2 linked regions of the Homo sapiens genome follow. The protein of the gene in region 1 interacts with the protein of each later gene in a biochemical or structural test. Each region holds a gene or a part of one and is shown on either strand. Other genes may lie near its edges.

The links. Proteins that work in one complex are often made in the same cells at the same time.
Region 2: the proteins of WAC (region 1) and RNF40 form a complex in vitro, tested with the Homo sapiens proteins (2 studies listed by BioGRID).

What each region holds. Positions count from the first base shown.
Region 1 is NC_000010.11:28,539,618-28,543,117, reverse strand, and holds part of WAC (WW domain-containing adapter protein with coiled-coil), read right to left. Parts: intron 1-3,500.
Region 2 is NC_000016.10:30,765,322-30,768,821, reverse strand, and holds part of RNF40 (E3 ubiquitin-protein ligase BRE1B), read right to left. Parts: coding exon 3,495-3,500; intron 3,398-3,494; coding exon 3,323-3,397; intron 2,660-3,322; coding exon 2,540-2,659; intron 2,444-2,539; coding exon 2,264-2,443; intron 2,082-2,263; coding exon 1,946-2,081; intron 929-1,945; coding exon 807-928; intron 720-806; coding exon 292-719; intron 204-291; coding exon 86-203; intron 1-85.

The sequences.
Region 1 (3,500 bases):
GGTGCTTAGTATACACATTCAAGTTTGAGGAATGCTAATCCAAAATACTATAATTTCATTCCCCTTAAATTATAACAATCCAAATTTTTTTTATCTATCCATTTAGTTAAATGCTATAAAGTTTCAGGCACTATTCAAGGTAACAGGAATACAAGGTGGATAAAAACATTAAAACTCTCACTTCCTCTTCTGGTGGAGCTTATATTCCACAAAAGGCAAGCAAACAAAAACTAAAATACAGTCAGTTCTGCTATAACATTTGTTTCCAAATAGACAAATTTGTTTGAAGGCTACTGATCTATCAGAAACCAGCAAATTTCCCACTTATGTGTATTTTCACCTGTGAGAAACACTAGCTACATCAAGCTGCACAGGAATTTACAAGGCAGACACAGCTCAAACATCTAATAGCTATCTTAGTTCATCATGAATTATGAGTCAGGTCCATCCACATTTGATGTTACAAGTTTTTGTCTCGTATCAGGTATCTTCCATCCATCACTTTACAGTAATTCATGAACTGCAACCCTTCCAATGAGTGGCCACTTTCACAAGAAGTCAGGTTTTGGTCAAGGTAAAGTGCCATTTATTGCGGTGTTATTCTTTAACCATTTTATACGTGTAAAACTAAGTTACAATTTTTATTAGGTTCCTATCTTTTTAAAATGTGTCACTGACAATGTTTTTGGTTACTGTGCTCCTAACTCCATTTTCCCCATAAATTGGTCTGGTGCAATGTTGCACAGCACCGTGACTTTCAGAAATGCCCATGTCATGTTATAGCAGAATGACTATAAGTAAATCATAACAGGTCACCTTCATACAAGGAAGGAACACGCAGGGGCAAGGAAAGACAATGATGAGAATGACTGTTTCAGAGTGTTCAGCAAGGGCAGAGAAGGCCCTGTGAGAGGGTGACACTTAAGCAGACACATTACTGAAGTGAGTGAGCACAGTAGGAGAAACATAAAGGCACATAATGTGCAGAGCCCCTGAGACAGGAACAAACTTCTGCCTGCAGGGCCAGTATGGAGAGAGTAGCACAAACAAGGGGAAGATAGTAGAAGAGGCTGAAAAAATACCCAGACACCAGATTACACAGGATCTATTATAAGATTTGCTAAGAAACAGGGAGTCACTGGAGGGCCGTGAGCTTGAGAGAGATGTGAGGTGACTGGCATTTTAACTGGATCACTCTGGCTACTGTGTGGGGAAACAATCATACAAAGCAAAATGGACTCGGGAACACTAGGGGGCTCTTGCAGAATTCAAGCTAAGAAAAGGTGGTAGCCAGAACTAAAATGATAAAATAGTGAGAATTAGTTATACTTGGAGTATAATTTGAAGGCAGAGATAAAATTTTATGTGAAGAGACTTCCTTTCCAGTTTCAACAACAGTAGGCTAAATACTTTATAATTTCATCAGTACAACAGGAATAATACTGATCAGCCTATTTCAAAGAGCTACTGTGGAGTCAGATGAGAAACAATATAGAAACCCTTTGAAAATTATAAAGCATCATACAAATCCTGAAAAGGACTGTTCATAGAATATATTTGCAAGCCCCAAATAACCAAATAACTGATTTTGCCAGGGGGTGGAGGTTGCAATGAGGTGAGATCGAGATCGTGCCACTGCACTCCAGCCTAGGTACAGAGTGAGACTGTCTTAAAAAAAAAAAAAAAAAAAAAAAAAACAAAACACACACACACACAACCCCACAAAAATTGGTTTTGTAATTATCAAATTGACAATGAGTTATATCTAGTGCCTGGTATAGCATCCCAAATGCCCAGCTTATTTCCATCTTCACTCTTTCCAGCATCATAACAAAATGATGCACTACCCCCCAAACAATTCTGCACAACAGAATAAGGTAACAGATGCTTAATAGACACAAATTAGAATATATAAATTTTCTGTGAATTACAGACCAAAACCCCAAGTATGTTACACCAAAAATTTTAAATACTTCCTGCACAACTAGAAAACAGTTCAATTAAGACTGTCTTAAGGATCTAAGGATCTAAGTGAACTCATTCCAAAATACTGATTGTAAAATAGAAATACCATTAAATTATAAACAATACATAATAACCATCTCTCTAAAAATATAAAAAGTTAAAATGTGATTATGAGAAGCGTAAGACAAATGACTTGGTACTAGTGTTCAAATTTAACAATTTACATGCACAGATGCTTACATCACAGACACTGTTTTCTAAAATTAAAAAAAAAACAATGAAGAGTTGAAACATTAAGACTGCTACTCCTTCAATCTTATTCCACTTCTCTTGAAACAGAGTATGTTTCCTGTGTTTTCTAAATTGACCAATGGAAATCCAATGCAAACATTTCTGCATAGTATTATCACAAAGCATAAATCAATGAAAAAAGGTCATGTGTCACTATTTTTACTAGACAAAAAATACTTAACATCAGTCAAACGTATTATTAAAATCCAAACGTTAGTGTATTATATTCTATGCAATGTTTCCACTTCGTAAACAAGTCTTTAAATATGAGGGATTAAGAGAAAATGGACTTTTCCTAGTGAAATCTGTGTCATGCTTCCATGTCAAAACTTATTTTTGAAAATAAAACACTGATGTGATAACTGCGCCTAGAACTACACAAATACATCTTATCAAGGTACTATAATTTGGCAAGTTGTAACCACTGAGGGAAGAAGGGTGAAGATATTAGCAGGATAAAAGCAAAAATGCCTTCAAACTAATTCATGCCATAGTAACCACCACCAAATAAGCTTTCAATACCCAAGTGTTTAATCTCTGACAGCATACAAGTTACCGAAGTTAGAGAACTAGTTTCTAGACTGAGCTGTTGCTCTCTGTTCAATTTTATTAAATTTTCCCTCATTTGTAAAACTGGAAATAAGGATACTATCTGTTGTCTTCCAAAGTTAACATGAGTATCAAAAGCGACTGTTAATTTGTATACTTACTTTCTATACAACATTTCTAATGTTAGTAATTTGTAACATTACTAACTCAAAGCATATTTCAAAGTCATCTAAACAACGGTAAGACCATGTTGCTCAACTGCCAGTCTATTATTCAATGTGAAAGACTCAAACGTTACTAAATTATATTAAAAAAAGACATTATCACCAAATAATCCCTACTAATTCCTTCAAAATGTTAATAGTAACTTTTATTTGAAAGTTAGGGAGATGAAAATACATTTCCAAATTTTTCCAAAGATATAGCTAAATGACAAAATAAAAACTTCACTATGGGCCAGGCGCGGTGACTCACGCCTGTAATCCTAGCACTTTGGGAGGCCGAGGCAGGTGGATCACTTGAGAGCAGGAGATTGAGACCAGCCTGGCCAACTTGGTGAAACCCTATTTCTACTAAAAATACAAAAATTAGCCGGGCATGATGGCGTATGTTTGTAATCCCAGCTACTTGGGACATTAAGGCAGAAGGATCGCTTGAACTCAGGAGGCAGAGGTTACAGCGAGCCAGGATCACAC
Region 2 (3,500 bases), on another chromosome or scaffold:
AAGAAACTCTCTTGACACTGCTTCCTGCTGAGCTAGGACTCTGCTCTGCCTTTCTGAATGCCCCACAAGCCCCAGCTGCCCTCACCTCGGCCTTAGCCTTGCGTTCCGCTGCCATGAGCTGCACCTTATCCCGCTGCTCCTTGGGCGCTGACTTGTACATATCCAGCAGCAGTTTCATCTCCTTCTGGCTCTCCTGGGCCTTCCTGGCAAGAAGGTACAGGAGGAAGTCTTAGTGAGTGGGACTGGAGGCCACCTGGCAGGGTCAGGAAGGAGACAGGAACAGAGCCTCACTTGAGCTCTGCTCGGAGACCCTTGAGGAGTTCTGATTCCTTCCGCTTGGTTTCTTCCACCTTGGCCTTCTCCCGATCAGCCCTTGAGAGAGCGGAGGCTACAGGTGGAGGTCCTAGGCTGGGACCTTCCCGTTCCCGAAGCTCCCGCTTGGGCCTGGCCTCAGGTTCTCGGCCCCGGGAGGAAGGGCCCTGGGCCCCAGGGGTTATACCCTGGAAGTCCTCTTCAGAGGGGACCAGCTCCTCCTTCTTCACTGAAGTGGTAGTAGTGGTGGTGCCAGGCACTGGAGCCATCTCCTTTCTGTTGTCGGGGGTACTGACAGGGCCTGGCCCACCCTCCTCTTTCCCTGGGGCTGGGGCACTGACGCCAGAATCCTCTGGGTGGCCCAGGTTGGGGGTGGAGTGGGCAGAGCCACTGGCCTGGGCCCGGAGCTGCAAAGGCAGAGAGGAAGAGGGATGAAGTCAGATGGTGTTCACTGGAGTCTAGCCAAACCTTTTCCCAGGCAGGCCCCTTCTCACCTTGCCAATCTCAGCTTGTACTTCTCGAAGCTTCCGCTTGTATCGCTGGGCGTCCCCTTTTAGCTGGTGGTTGTGGTTTTGAAGACTACTAATCAGGTGGCGCATCTCACGGTTGATGGGCCCTGGAGGAGCATCAGCAAGTAAAGGTGTCAGAACCAGTTCCTGGGTTAGGACTCCAACCCCTCAGTGGGGTAAGAGGCTATGCCATCACTCCCACTGTGCAGGAGGGGAACATTGCGGCCTCAACGGAGCATGAACTCATCAAAGTAAATAATGCTGACTTCAAGGAAACTCACCCAAAATTAACTTGACACTGCCTATTCATACGATTTTTGCTAATATAGAATATGTGGGGTTTTTTGTTTTTTTTTTAAATAGAAACAGTGTCTCACTTTGTTGCCCTGGCTGGTCTCAAATTCCTGGCCTCAAGTGATCCTCCCACCTTGGCCTCCGAAAGTGCTGGGATTACAGACATGAATCACCACACCTGGCCTAGGTTTTTTCTTTTTTTTTTTTATACATCCAATTCCCTTTAATAGAGAAGGTAACTGTAACATTCACAAAAGTTAGTTAACTTCTTCTAGATTCTTAAATATCACCTTCCCAGTACATTTCCCTGGCCTCCTATTCAAAATTGCAACACCCTTTCTCCTGATACTTCCTATCTTCCTTTTCTGCTTTACTTTCCTATCTGTCAAGAGCTAACACATTTTCCATTTTTCTTCTACTAGTTCGTCTTCCTCTAGTCTGTCTTCTATCAGAATGTTGCTCCACATGGCAGGAATTCTGTTTTGTTCACTGGCATAACCCCAAACCCTAGAACAGAGCCTGGCTCAGAGGTGGCATTTGATAAATCTTTGTAACACAAGTATCTGAGAGACAGAGACGTCATCAGACCAGAAGAATGAGGACAGGGCTGACAGCTCAGACTCTGCATGTGCCTGCTCCATCAGCCACCCCAGCTGGCGGACCCTCACTGTGCCTGGGAGCCAAGCAGTGCAGGCCCTGTTTTGCATAGGAAGCCGAGGCTCTGTGAAAAAAAAGGCCTTAGCCTCTTGCATCTGGATAAGCAGCAGCCCCACACCAGGGCCCAGCACTCCCAGATAAGGCCCCACCTCCGCCCTATCCTCACCACATACCCGCCTGCTCGTTGGCCGCCAGATTCTGCTCAAACTCGATGCGCAGCATCTCATACTCCTTGCGTACCTGGGCCAGCGTGTCCTCCAGCTGAATGACCTCTGTGCGTAGCTTCTTCTGCAGCCCCAGCTCGTCGCTCTGTGGGTTGATGTGTTAAGGACCCACACAGCCCCTCGGTCCCACCTCAGGACTCAGTATCTTAGGAAGAATCTATTCCCCAGGGACCCCTGGCTGGCACACAGGGCCTCGGAAGGCACAAACACGTCAACACTAACGGTTTGGCCCTTAGCCCAGCCCTAACGCCTGTTCCAGGGCCATACCTCCATGTGCTCGATGTGTCGCAGGTGGGAGTTCTTTGTGGCCAGCAGCAGGCCCCGAGCCTCGTCTAGCTGGGTCTTCACTTGCAGAGACTCGTTGTAGAGCAGTGAGAATTGGGCCTGCAGCATGCGGTACTCCCCCGTCTCCCGCACTACCTCCTCAGGAAGGCTCCGCAGGGCCACCTGGGGCAGGGATGCCCAAATGGGATCAGCAACAGGATTCAGGGCTCAGTCCCTCCCTTACAGGCCCAGGACCTCTCAGCCCCTACAGCAGCCCACCTTGAGGCGCTCATTGGTCCGCACAGCCCCCTGAAGTTCGGCCTGCAGTTTCTCCAGCTCTGCCATACGGCTGTTGGCCAGTTCCTGGTTTTCCTCTAACTCTGCATTCAGCATCTCAAACTAAGGAGTGGGAGGCAGGGCCATGGGAGGCAGGGCCAGACGTGGCAGCAGGCCTCCCTTACATCCCCAGCATACACTCCACCCCAAGCACCCCGTGCAGGGCAATGATCGATTCTGACACCCCAAACCAAGTACTTTCCTAAGGGCTCCCAGAAAAATGGGAGAAAATTCAATACTGCATGGTCGGTGCTGGGAACTAAGGCTCTTAACTGATGGGGAGTCACGGAAGGCATTCCAGAAAGGCCTAAAGTGCTAATAAAGGGAAAAAGGGCACAGTGACCACCAGATGCCAACTGACTCCAACTCACTCTTAGCTCTCTCTTCTGTGCTTTATCTTTGTGGTACTCATAACACACTGATATGCTATTTTACTGATTTCTTGTCTGTTACCACAAGTAGAACCTAAAGATATATTCTTTTATTTATTTCTTGTCTGGTCCATGAAAGTTTTGACCTCTATTTTGTTCTCGCCAATATGCCTAGTGCCTAGCACTAAGTGTTCAAAAATCTACTCAACAAGTATATGAATGCATGAAAAAAAGAGCAGCAGGAGTGACCAGGAAGGGCCTCAGAGATGGATGTTTGTCCTTTGTCCTGAGGGGAATTTCAAGAGTGCAACAGAGAAGAGGTTGTGAGAAGGGGTGGGAGGAAAACGCCGCTCACCTTCTGCATGCTGAGTGTGATCTGGCCCCCCTGGAAGCCTGAGGAGCTCCCAGATACATAGTAGCCAGAGTTAAGCTGTGGAGAGAAAACAGACAGGCAATGGATGTAGAGGGGAGGAGCTAAGGCCCAAGGGCCCAGCCTTGCCTCACCTGCCCCAGCACCCCTGCCCCACCTGCTC